2 linked regions of the Homo sapiens genome follow. The protein of the gene in region 2 interacts with the protein of the main gene of each other region in a pairwise test. Each region holds a gene or a part of one and is shown on either strand. Other genes may lie near its edges.

Region 1 (9,068 bases), on a different chromosome or scaffold from region 2:
TAGCCGGGCGTAGTGGCGGGCGCCTGTAGTCCCAGCAACTCGGGAGGCTGAGGCAGGAGAATGGCGTGAACCCGGGAGGCGGAGCTTGCAGTGAGCCGAGATCGCGCCACTGTACTCCAGCCTGGGCGACAGAGCGAGACTCCGTCTCAAAAAAAAATAAAAAATAATAAAGAAAAGAAAAGAAAGATGGGACACATTAATATCCAGAAACACCTACAGACTACAGACTGCAGATGGATGCTACAGACTTCAAATATGTCCCACTGCACTGCGTTAAAATCTGAAGAACAAAGTAATCCCTTCCCCCAGATTACTTTTTAAAACCACAGATCTATACGTTTTTTAAAAGGTATAAAAATATTATTCTAAGAGCAGTAACTAGAACATTAGAACAATTCAGGTTTTAATTCACGAAACTGATCTATAAGTGGACTATTTTTTAAATAAATCTAAACTTACCCCTAGTGTGTTTTTATCCATGATTTTTATAGCTACCATCTCTCCAGTAAGGATATGGCAGGCAAGTTTGACCTTTGCAAAGCCACCTAAGTAGGAAAATGTATTATGAAAGCATAAGCAAGGACTCAGGCACAAACACCTTTTTATATATAATAATTTTAAAAGACTCTATCAAGCCAAATTTTCCTAGAAGTTTGTGGCTTTTTTTTCCTGTTGCTGCTTGTTATCCAATGTCTAGCTGAAGGTTTTTTTTTTTTTAACCATGATAGTGTATCTCAAACTTTGTAATAAAAAAAAAACAGAACTCACTTTAGAAATCTGCTTTATGAATAATCCTGCAATTAAATTTCCTTTATAATTAACACTGCTAGAACACAATATAAAGTTGCTGAGGCCAAAGACAAATTATATGAAACTTCCACTCAGTTTTAAATATTTGAGGCCGGGCGCGGTGGCTCACGCCTGTAATCCCAGCACTTTGGGAGACCGAGGCGGGCGGATCACAAGGTCAGGAGATCGAGACCATCCTGGCTAACACAGTGAAACTCCGTCTCTACTAAAAATGCAAAAAATTAGCCTGGCATGGTGGCGGGCACCTGTAGTCCCAGCTACTCGGGAGGCTGAGGCAGGAGAATGGCATGAACCCAGGAGGTGGAGCTTGCAGTGACCCGAGATCGCACCACTGCACTCCAGCCTGGGCGACAGAGCAAGACTCCATCTCCAAAAAAAAAAAAAAACTTTGAAGATAAGCAATTATTTTTCAAAACTGAACCAAAAGCTGGACAAATGTCTCCACTCAGGCAGCTAAAAGAAATCCCCAAATTAACATTTCCAAAAAGAACTTCCTAGTAGTCTCTCCCATGGTCTTCTTCCTTTCAACAAAGGGCAACTCCATTTTCCCTGGTGCTCAGGCCAAAAACCCTGGAACCATCCTTAGCCCTTCTCTTTCTCTAGCACTCCAACCCATCAATAAATCCCATTAGCTCTGTCCTCAAAATATATCAATGGCTACCTTGGGGGAAAGCAGGCAGATACTCCCTGGAAACGGTCTATGTCTTGATCCGCACAGGGAATATATGGGTATGTGTATACATATATATGTGTAAAACTCCACTGAGATTATTGCACTTTGCATATTTTACTATATGTTATACCTTAATAAAAACATACACACATAGGTGTGTACATATGTGTGTGTAAAATGTCCCACCCCTTTCACTGCTTTTACATCACCCTCATCCACACCACCATCATCTCTAGCATCAACACCTGAATTATCGCAATAGTCTGCTAACATCTCCCTGCCTCTGCTCTTGCCCTCCTTCATCCAACCTTTTATCTACCAAGCAGCCACAGCAACTCTGTAAAAACAAAGGTCAAATTACCCCTTAACTCAAAACTCTCCAATGACTTTAATTTAGAATAAAAGTCAAGAAATAAAAGAAGCCTGGGCGCGGTGGCTCATGCCTGTAATCCCAGCACTTTGGGAGGCCGAGGCGGGTGGATCACGAGGTCAGGAGATCGAGACCATCCTGATTAACACGGTGAAACCCCGTCTCTACTAAAAATACAAAAAATTAGCCAGGCATGGCGAGCGCCTGTAGTCCCAGCTACTTGGGAGGCTGAGGCAGGAGAATGGCGTGAACCCGGGAGGCAGAGCTTGCAGTGAGCCAAGATCGCGCCACTGCACTCCATCCAGCCTGGGCGACAGAGTGAGACTCCGTCTCAAAAAAAAAAAGAAATAAAAGAAATATTTAGAATAAATTATTTAGAATAAAAGTCAAAGTCCTTGCAATAACCTACAGGGCTTCTCCTACTATTCTCCTCTCTGCTTGCTCCACTTTTTCTTACTGAAGTAGGTAGAAGAATTTTAAAACTGTGTGGGTTAGACGAAAAAGCTCACACCTACCCAAATAATCTATACTCTCAAATAGTTGATCTATCCACTGCCTCCAAAAAAAAATAACAATTACCTGTCCCAATAGTTTCATGTAATTCATAATATTTGAGAAGTTCATCATAATCTTTCATAGTCCTCTTGCAAGTTTATTTGGAATTAGAAAAAGAACCTAGAAGACAGAGAGTACATAATCAATAAAGGAAATAATACCGGATCATCTCCTCCATTCTTGTAACTGCAAATCTAAATAAGTCTTATGCATTTACATGATACTGAAAAAACTGATTATTGGCCATATGAAAAAAAGGATTCTTATCTCACACCATACATAAAAATGAATTCCAGATAGACTTAAAAAGTATGAAACATAAACCTTTAAAACTTTTTAAAGAATATTGTCATTATTTCAGGATAGGAGAGGATCACTTAAATAAAGTACTAATAATAATAATGAAAAAAATTAATATATTAAACAACATTAAAATTAAGAACTTCAGCTGGGCACAGTGGTGCGTGTGTTGTCAGCCACTTGGGAGGACAGCTTGAGCCCAGGAGTTCGAGGCCAGCCTGGGCAACATAGCAAGACCACATCTATAAAAAAAATAAAAATAAAACTAAGCACTTCTATACAACCAAAGACACCATCAAAAAAAGAAAACCATAAATGTGAGAAGATACTTGCAACAAATATAATAGTGGATGTACACAGGAAACACATAAACTCTGACAAAACAATAAGAAAAACTCAACAGCAAAATAAGCAAATGATACAAAAAACTTTTCTCAGCCGGGCATGGTGGCTTACGCCTGTAATCCCAGCACTTTGGGAGGCCAAGGCAGGCAGATCACGAGATCATGAGTTCGAGACCAGCCTGGCCAACATGGTGAAACCCCATCTCTACTAAAGATACAAAACATTAGCCAAGCGGGGTGGCATTCACCTGTAATCCCAGCTACTTGGGAGGCTGATGCAGGAGAATCGCTTGAACCCGGGAGGTGGAGGTTGCAGTGAGCCGACATCGTGCCATTGCACTCTAGCCTGGGCGAAACAGCCAGACTTTGTCTCAAAAAAAAAAAAAAAAATTTCTCAAAGAAACACAAATGGCCAACAAAAACATGGAAAAGGGTGTCTCTGAGCCTACTCTGGCTCGGGAGGCTACCTGAAGAAAAAATAATTTAAAAAAAAAAGACACGAAGCTGGGCAAGGTGGCTCACACCTGTAATCCCAGCACTTTGGGAGGCTGAGGAGGGTAGATCACCTGAGGTCAGGGTTCGAGACCAGCCTGACCAACATGACGAAACCCGTCTCTACTAAAAATACACAAATTAGCCAGGCATGGTGGCAGGAGCCTGTAATCCCAGCTACTTGGGAGGGTGAGACAGGAGAATCACTTGAACCTGGGAGGCGGAGGTTGCAGTAAGCTGAGATTGTGCCATTGCACTCCAGCCCGGGCAACAAGAGTGAAACTCCGTCTCAAAAAAAAAGGCCGGGTGCGGTGGCTCACGCCTGTAACCCCCACACTTTGGGAGGCCGAGGCGGGTGGATCACAAGGTCAGGAAATGGAGACCATTGTGGCTAACATCATAAAACCCTGTCTCTGCTAAAGCTATAAAAAATTAGCCAGGGGTGGTGGCACGCGCCTGTAGTTCCACCTACTTGGGAGGCTGAGGCAGGAGGCAGAGGTTGCAGTGAGCCGAGATCACGCCACTGCACTCCAGCCTGGGCAACGGAGCGAGATTCTGTCTCAAAATAAAAAAAAAAAAAAAAAAAAAAGAAGACATGAAAAAATTATCAGTAGTCATCAGGAAAACCCAAACTAAGACCCCAGTCATACACAATTTTATTATGTATATGATATGTATTTTATTATTATGCTTCACAACTTATGTGGGTTACATATACTGTTAATTATACATCAAATAATAAATAAAAATTAGTTGTAAAAAAAATTAGGTAGATCTTATTGATTTTGTCTCCCTGAGTTTTAAAATTAAGTAGTTTATTTTTTAAAAACCATAGAGCTAAGTAGGGCCCTGTTATGCACATTAATATACAAAGTCACACTCATACCATCTCCATCTTACTTGTGGAAAATAACCTCGTGGTTGACTTTTAGAGATCAGCAGTGTGTCTGGAAAAACTGCTAATGCAGTTCTAGAAAACTCTTGAATTTGCTCTTATTCATTTATTCATACAGATATTTACTGAGCACCTATGATATGCCAAACCTGCCCTTGGCACTAGGGCTATAATGGAGAAGAAATATGATTCTGCCCTCATGGAGTGTATATTCTAGTGGAGAAGACAAAAGGCAAATAAGTAGACAACAAATTAATACTTATAATTTATAGGCCGGGTGCAGAGGCTCACGCCTATAATCCCAGCACTTTGGGAGGCCAGGGTGGGCGGATCACGAGGTCAGGAGTTCGGGACCAGCCTGGCCAACATAGTAAAACCCGGTCTCTACTAAAAAATATAAAAATTAGGCTGGGCGCGGTGGCTCATGCCTGTAATCCCAGCACTTTGGGAGGCCAAGACGGGCAGATCACCTGAGGTCGGGAGTTCGAGACCAGCCTGACCAACATGGTGAAACCCCGTCTCTACTAAAAATACAAAATTAGCCAGGTGTGGTGCCACATGCCTCTAATCCCAGCTACTCGGGAGGCTGAGGCAGGAGAACTGCTTGAACCCAGGAGACGGAGGTTGCAGTGAGCCGAGATCGTGCCACTGCACTCCAGCCTGGGCAACAAGAGCGAAATTCCATCTCACAAAAATAAATAAATAAATAAATATATAAATAAATTAGCCAGGCCTTGTGGTGTGCGCCTGCAATCCCAGCTACTCGGGAGGCTGAGGCAGGAGAATTGCTTGAACCCAGGAGGCAGAGGTTGCAGTGAGCCAAGATCGTGCCACTGCACTCCAGCCTGGGAGACAAAGCAAGATTCTGTCTCAAAAAATAATAATTACTATTATTATTATCTATACTAAATACTGAAATAAAAATAAGCAACAGTGGTTTCTGAGAAGGTAACATTTAAGCCAAGCTCTAATTCAAAGGATGAGAATTGAGAAAATCAGCCCTGCCAGTAATCAGACTGTGATATTCCTATCAAAACTTGAACAATGGTTTCAATAGAATCTGAACATAACCATATAAACAATGTTTCCATACAAGGCTGTTAAAATAAAGATCCTTTATTTGACTGACTTCATTGTCTTCAATGACATCCTCAGGCCCACCTCATTCTTCCCTCATTCTGCCCCTTTCAACTCACTCTGAGACTACCCAAAATTCTCAAGAGTATGGTTTCTCTTGCGCAGCAAACTAAATACATCTAATGATTTTTACTACAGATGTGGTCTTTGGTCTGTAGGCCTTAACAGTCATAGCCCACAAAGAAATAGACGGAGAATATTCCAGAAAGAGGGAATTTAGGTGCAAAGATCCTAGAGGAAGTAAAAGTTGACAGGTACTGAACTGAGGCTGCTTTTAGAGGTAACAGGTGATGGAAATGCAGCTCTGGAGCTGGGACAATTGATTAGCCATGAGGTGAAGGAAAAAAAAAAACACATTGGATCTCTATCTCACACCATACAAAATCAGTAACAGTTGTAAAGACTTAAAAGCAAAAGACAAATATTTGAAATGTTGAAAACATAGATAGCTAAGGTCTTCCCCATACCAAACCTACAGCTAGGAGTGGCAAAAGGAAGAAGCGTAAAGATAGCTGGGCATGGTGGCTCATGTCTGTAATCCCAGCAATTTGGGAGGTCAAGGCAGGAGGATTGCTTGAGGCCTGGAGTTCAAGACAAGCCAGGACAATATAGCAAGACCTTGTCTCTACTAAAAATAAAAAACAGCCAGGCGCAGTGGCTCACACTTGTAATCCCGGCACTTTGGGAGGCTGAGGCAGGCGGATCACCTGAGGTCGGGAGTTCAAGACCAGCCTGACCAACATGGAGAAACCCCGTCTCTACTAAAAATATAAAAAATTAGCCAGGCGTGGTGGCCCATGCCTGTAATCCCAGCTACTAGGGAGGCTGAGGCAGGAGAATCACTTGAACCCGGGAAGCAGAGGTTGCGGTGAGCCGAGATCATGCCACTGCACTCCAGCCTGGGTAACAAGCGAAGCTGTGTCTCAAAAAAATAAATAAAAATTAAAAATTAAAATCTAGTCGAGGCCAGGTGCAGTGGCTCACGCCTGTAATCCCAGCACTTTGGCAGGCTGAGGTGGGTGGATCACTTGAGGCCAGGAGTCACATGCCACCACTCCTGGCTAGTTTGTTTGTTTGTTTGAGATGGAGTCTTGCTCTGGTGCCCAGGCTGCAGTGCAGTAGTGCGATCTCAGCTCACTGCAACCTGCGCCTCCCAGGTTCAAGCTATTTTCCTGCCTCAGCCTCCCAAGTAGCTGGGACTACAGGCGAACAACAACACCATACCCGGCTAATTTTTGTATTTTTAGTAGGGATGGGGTTTCGCCATGTTGGCCAGGCTGGTCTCAGACTCCTGACCTCAGGTGATCCACCCTCCTTGGCCTCCCAAAGTGCTGGGATTACAGGCGTGAGCCATCGCCCTGGCCAAGCAAGCCTGTTTAAGCCTCAAACTGATGAGTGGCAGGTGCCACGTAAACTACCTTCAAATTCTCTGTTCTTCACCCTGCCCTTATCCAGAACTGAGTGACTAGCATGTTACTAAGCCTTAATAATGGCCATGAATTTGGAAGACCTAGAGTGTGAGTTCAACCTCAGAAGTGTGGTGAGCTTATAAAGGAAGACAGAGCTTAATAAGAGAAGGCCCTTCATACAATGATGAGTAGTCTTCTTAAAATTGAGGTGGAAAAAATTCTGAATGAACTTATCAAAACCCCAAAAGCCACAAAGGACATTTTAAAAATATCATTTTTCTATGCCTGAAACACTGATTCCATGAATCATTTTACTTGGAGAGAAAAAGAAAATTATTATCAGCAAGTAAAAAACGGCTGGGCACAATGGCTCCCGCCTGTAATCCTAGCACTTTGGTAGGCCAAGGCAGGTGGATCACCTGAGGTCAGGAGTTCGAGACCAGCCTGACCAACATGCAGAAACCCCGTCTCTACTAAAAATACAAAAATTAGCCGGGCGTGGTGATGCACACCTGTAATCCCAGCTGCTAGGGAGGCTGAGGAAGGAGAATCGCTTGAACCCAGGAGGTGGAGGTTGCAGTGACCCGCGATCACGCCACTGCACTCTGGCCTGCACGACAGGAGTGAGACTCCAGCTCAAAAACAAACAAAAAAAATTTGGTCAATGAATAGAAAACTAGAGCAGAAGCTTTAGAAGGAAAAATATCGACACTCAAGAAAAAAATTAAATCAGCTTTAAAAAACAAGGTTCAGTCTTCAACATCAAAGCAGAAATAGCACACAAAAAGATAACATGCAAAACGACATTCTGATAAAATAAACAATATTAAGCCATTTCCTAGGAAGAGATCACACTGGACCCAACTTAATAAGTAGGTTGAACATTTAACCTAACGAAATCTGCATGAACACAGTAGGCAAACATTAGAAGAAGCAAGGTCAGGTCCCAGTACTGAGGGAAAACTGTTGATAGAAAATGAAACATTCTGCTTCCACTGGAGTAGAAAAAGTTACTCAAGGCAAGGAGATATCACAGAGGACAAATTTATTCTCACTGGGCACCTGAAGGCACAGGATTAAATACTTTAAACAGCAACACTAATTCAGAAATATTTTAAAGGGCATTTGTCAGTGGGGCAAATGTGGGGATAAACTGGAACCTCATCCTAAAAACAAACAGGAACCATAGGACTAAGAAATTCCAAAAGGCAATAAAAACAGTAAAAGTATAGAGGTCAACCTAAGGCTCAGAAATCTTTGGAATCCTGATACAGAAGAAAAAAGAGAGCAGGAGAATGGAAATGGAGGAACACTGGACTATAAATCTGAATGCACATGTTTACATTCCATGCAAAGGACTGGGCTATTTCAAATTGTCACTCAGAAAGAGAAAGCAATTTGTAAGATGCTGGAATTCACTTCCCAGATTAGGGATTTAAGAGTGTCATAATTAACTTAATAGACTTCTCCCAAAAGAGTTATAAACATCCCAGTCATGGCCTCTGGAAAACTAGCAGAGATGGGCAAGTTGTTTATTTAACAACTAAGGTAAGACTGAAGCCATGCACTTTTTTTTTTCTTTCTTTCTTCCATTTTCTCTATCTACCCGCTTCTCTCAAATTACATCATGTCTTTGGATGAGTAATACCAATGTGGGCCTAGATTATAGCTACTGAATCAAGGGAATATCGTTGTTGCTGCAATGTGAGAAAACTGGTGCTTACATTACAAACTCCTACACTAATAGCAGATTATACTTGATTTGTAAATCTTTGTGAATGTGGAGCTGGTTCTAAATATTCTCATGTGCCCTGTTTATCCTCTAGAGTTTGTTAATATAGAATACAGAAAAGCCTTGAGAACAGAGTAACCCAACTTTGTAGCTGCTGAAGGAGGTATATTATCAGTCAACGCGGAAGACAGCCTCTCAACTGTGAATAATGAAGAAGGAAATTAGACCCCAATCAGACACCTGAGTGCCCTTCTGGGCTTGACTAAATAAATAGAAGAATTGGGGGTATATATAATTGGGTTTTGTTTTTGTTTTTGTTTTTGAGACGGAGTCTTGCTCTCTTGCCCAGGC
Region 2 (4,782 bases):
ATTTCAAAGACGCTTTAAAAGGCCAACGTGCTGTAGGATGTGTTTCCACATGTTGCTTAAGAATATAAGTATATTGAATTCTTATGTACTAATGACCAACATTATCACCTTGCAAACCTGGAGCGTCCAGACCTAACGTTACAAATAGAACATCACAGTGAACAATGCTGGAATTTCCTGTAGACCCTCCATTTAAGCTTGTGTTTTATCCATCAACTACATCTCACCTATTTCCTGTGGTCTAAGAGCTTTGTTAACTCTTATGCTGTCAAAACAGTCAGGTTTAGGGAAAATGTTTTTATCCACACTAGTATCCAAAGACCATGTCTTTGAATCGAAAGCTTCTTTTTGTCATCTCTTGAGTATGATGATAAAACAAGCAACTGAAAGTAACTACTTTTCCATATCTGTGTATCAAGCAAATTATTTTCCAGTTATTTTGGCAGGTATAGGGACTTAAAATAACCAAAATAATTTTCTTATGCAAATTGAAAGTCTGGATCCTAAAAGCAAATACAGACTTCCACAATATTTATAGTATCTGGTTCATGGTCTTTTTACACAAAAGATTCTGAAAGAAATGGCTTTACCTAGGTAAATATAAATCTTTCCTGGAAACCGTACACAGGGTTCTACCTAGCCAACTATCCTTTATTCATTTTCAGTGGAAATGGCTTTTTCGTGCCTTATGTATATGCTGTTGTTAAATATCTGCATGGTTATGTCTGTCTGGGAAGATATTTGATTACTTTTGTCCTAATTAATATTCTTGTGAAAGGATAGTGTGTATTTAGTAAGCTTTTAGGTAATGCTGATGACACTGGCTTTGCAATGCTGATGACCACCTTTGGAGAGCCACTGCTCTGAGGGAGCCTGGAATTAGTCATCTCTAAACCCAGCCCCCTTCAGGTCATCTCCCTTGAACTTATGACACATGGGTTGGGACATTTTCCCTAGAAAGGGCCAGAGGTGATCGTTTAGGCTTTGTGTGCAATTCTGTCTCTGCAGCAGCTTCCCACCTCTGCTGTTGTAGCAAGCACCAAAGCATCGAGAGATAATACCTACACAGTTGAGCGTGGCTGTGTGGCAGTAAAACAAACCAAAACAGGCGGTTGGCCAGATTTGGTTCTCTGGCTGTAGTTTGCCACCCCTAGATTAATATATCAGATGTGCCTCACCCTTAAATAAGAACCTTGAATTGTTCCTCCAGTAGATATCTTTACTTACCTCAGGTTTTTATTATTCCAGCTACAGAATTTCCAATTGGTGGCCAATACCTTTGTCCCATAGTTTTTTTTTTTTTTTTTTTTTTGGAGACGGAGTCTTGCTGTGTTGCCCAGGCTGGAGTGCAGTGGTATGATCTTGGCTCACCGCAAGCTCCGCCTCCCGGGTTCACACCATTCTCCTGCCTCAGCCTCCCGAGTAGCTGGGACTACAGGTGCCCACCACCACGCCCGGCTAATTTTTTTGTGCTTTTAGTAGAGATGGGGTTTCACCGTGTTAGCCAGGATGGTCTCGATCTCCTGACCTCGTGATCCGTCCACCTAGGACTCCCAAAGTGCTGGGATTACAGGCGTGAGCCACCGCACCCGGCCCTGTCCCATAGTTTTTTTATTTGAAATATTCAGAGTCTATTTTCTTTTTTCTCACTCTGTTACAAGTTAGTGGGCCTATGAGATAATGAGATATACAATCGTGTTGTAATAACATCAGCATACTTTGAAAATTAAATTTAGAAATTCATTTCTGAAAGCATGATTGACTCACATAGTTTTACCAGATCCTACTAAATAAGCAAAAGCTATAGACAGAATTCAACTTAATCACCTTTTAAAATTCATATTCACCAGGTGATTTCCATCATTTAGGAAGCAATAGGTCAGGGTTACTCAGCCTTGGCACTATTGACATTTTGGACTGAATAATTCTTTGTTATGGGGGGCTGTCCTGTGCATGTAAAGATGTTTAATAGCATCTCTGGCCTCTACCCACTAGGTGCCAGTAGTACCCCTCTAGCTGTAACAACCAAAAATGTGTTCAGTCAGTGCCCAATGTCCCTTGCTGGATAAAATCCCCATTGGAGAATCACTGCAATAGAGAGTTTAAGCAAAGGAAAGGTGGATTGATTTCTATTTTAGATCCTGACTGTGGCTTGTAGTCCCAAACATCAGAACTGCTCTCTGTGCTTAATCTTCTTCATATATATATATATATATATATATATATATATATATATATATAATTTTTATTTATTTATATATATAAAACGCTAAAAATCTCTTATCTCCTAGGCCCCTATTATCTGTATTAGTAGGGGTTTCTATGTGAATTTTTGGGGAGGCATATTGTATGCAAGTAAGTACACAATGCTAAGTTTTTCACTTAACAGTGACTTGTCATTTTCTTTTTAAAAAATCTATTGTTTGGTTTTCTTTTTGTTGCATGCTTGCTTTCTTTCACTTTTTATTTTTATTTTACATGCTGCTTCATCTGTCTTTAGTAGATAGAACAACTGTTTCTTCTGGTACATCGATTTTCCATCTAGATATACTAAAAGATCTGATTTGGAAAGCCCTTGCTTTATAGCTCTGCCTTGAAAAAACTATCCAACTCAGTGTTTCAGTATTGCTCTTTTGAAAAACAGGTGCCAGAGTGGGTCATCGCTCCTTGATGAGATACTACAAACAGCGATTTGGCTTGTCAAGAGCTGTGGCAGTTGCCAAAAATCGGAAGGCCGTGGGCCGAGTACTTCAGCAGTACAGAGCCCTGGGATGGACTGGCAGCACAGGTACATTGATCTTTACAACTACAGACCAGTCTGAGAACTTGTATTTCTAGAAGGGGTCTGGGGAAAGTTGTTTCCATTTATGTTGTCCATGTGGATTCTCTCTAGGGGAAACGTAACGTCTTGGCTCCAGGGACTTCCATTACCACTTGATATGTTTAAGGCAATAAGCCCAAAGTGCTATGACTTAGAAATTTCATATTCCTGGCACAGTGATTTTATATACCATTAACTTTTTCAGAAGATAATAGTTACAAAAAGAATTATTTAGTAATCACCAAAGGTTGAAATTATCCTGGAGGTTATGCAGAGGAATTAGATAGTATCCTAGTGGTTAATAGCTTGAGCTGTGGAGTCAGACGTGACTTATGTGATGTACTTAGAGGTTCTTATATGATGAACATGAGTAATTTAATTAATATAAGCTTCTGTTTCCTCATTTATAAAACAGAGATGATAGTAATAAGACCTACCTCTTAGAGTTGAGTGGGTTGAATGTCATGCATGTGTGATATAGTGCATGCCCATAGTCGAGGTTAGCTATCAGTCCCCTTTTTTGTAATTTTCCCATAGAAAATTTAGCAAAAGTTAGAAGAGTAAAGCATGCCACTGCAATTGTTGAGTTTTGAAACCTCATCAGTATGGTACTCTTTACATCTATTCTGATGTGTCTGCTGGATGAAGCTGGTTATATCCTTAGATCTTCAGGGAAAGCATCTATCCAACTGAGGACTGTGGAGAAAATAAGAGGCGGGCTGCCTTCTGATGGCCTGGGAAGCTCTAGGCAACTAAAATCCATTTGAAAAGGCACTGTGTTTATATGTGGTTTCCTTCACTGTGGCTGCTTGTGAGCTGTGTGGCCACTTGAATCTGGCAGAGACTTGACTTCATCTTACTCTTATCAGGAAGTATTGTCTGACTCGATATATAGCTTCTGCCTTTCTGATTAATGGGGCTTTACCTTTTGGGCTTATAAACTCTTCCAGATGATGAAAACTAAAGCTACTAATCCCAGATAAGTGTATATATACAAAAGTTCTGGTATGCAATTCTGGAGTCCACAGAGACCCCTGAGGCGCATGGCTTAGAGACCCCAAGTTAGCAACTCTGTTTTAAATACAAGAACCTAGTTACCCCAAACTAACCTTTTGAATTCTCTGCCAAGGTTGGATTTTCTCTGATCACAAATAACAGAACTTTGCCTAATTTCTTAACTGCCTTCCAATCATAGGAGCGGCTCTTATGCGAGAGCGAGACATGCAGTATGTCCAAAGGATGAAATCAAAATGGATGCTGAAGACAGGAATGAAGAACAATGCCACCAAGCAGATGCACTTTCGGGTCCAAGTGAGATTCTGAGAGTCTGCTGGGATTGAGCAATCATCTCCTGCCCAAGTTTCCTCCTTGCCCTGAGGACCAGTGAAAGACAGATCATAGGAGAGACCCTTTTGCTGCTACTTCATTCGTTCTGACCTAATAATAAAAGTTAGAACCATATGAGTTTTCAGATGTCGTTTTTGAATAGTGTTGAAAGGTTATGTTTTCACAAGGTAAGTCCTGTGTCTACTGGACCCTGGGACTTGCACTGCTGCCTGACAGTTGCTTCATCGCCTCAGCTTTAAATGATTTATGATTGTCAGAGTAATGTGAGGAATCAGGAATGACTTGTGTGCCCCAAACTTAGTTTAACTTTGAGAGTAACTCACCATGTCATGGCACTGGGACCTATGTAAGGGGGCTTGAAGGCTTATGTAGGGGCAAAGTTGAATGTCACTCATGGAATGTATCATGGTACAGGAGGTACTGAATATCTCTGGGCGCTTGCATTAAATCCAGGCTAAGTTAAAAAGCACATCAATAGCTTGCTGTAAAGGTTTTATATTTCTAAACATGACTGCACAGAGTGACTACTGTGTAGTCTGATGCAGTTTCCAGTGGTGCAGTTAGTCTAGGAGGAAAGTAAAGGTAAAATGCTTAGGTATCATTTTAGAAAGACT

What was found.
Region 1: the proteins of ZNF622 (region 2) and MELK interact in a two-hybrid assay, tested with the Homo sapiens proteins (one study listed by BioGRID).

Annotation. Positions count from the first base shown.
Region 1 is NC_000009.12:36,575,104-36,584,171, reverse strand, and holds part of MELK (maternal embryonic leucine zipper kinase), read right to left. Parts: intron 4,100-9,068; exon of another isoform or gene 3,301-4,099; intron 2,529-3,300; 5' UTR 2,491-2,528; coding exon 2,433-2,490; intron 546-2,432; coding exon 460-545; intron 1-459. UniProt on the Homo sapiens protein: Serine/threonine-protein kinase involved in various processes such as cell cycle regulation, self-renewal of stem cells, apoptosis and splicing regulation. Has a broad substrate specificity; phosphorylates BCL2L14, CDC25B, MAP3K5/ASK1 and ZNF622.
Region 2 is NC_000005.10:16,451,019-16,455,800, reverse strand, and holds the end of ZNF622 (cytoplasmic 60S subunit biogenesis factor ZNF622), read left to right. Parts: intron 1-2,644; coding exon 2,645-2,788; intron 2,789-4,016; coding exon 4,017-4,144; 3' UTR 4,145-4,282; downstream 4,283-4,782. UniProt on the Homo sapiens protein: Pre-60S-associated cytoplasmic factor involved in the cytoplasmic maturation of the 60S subunit.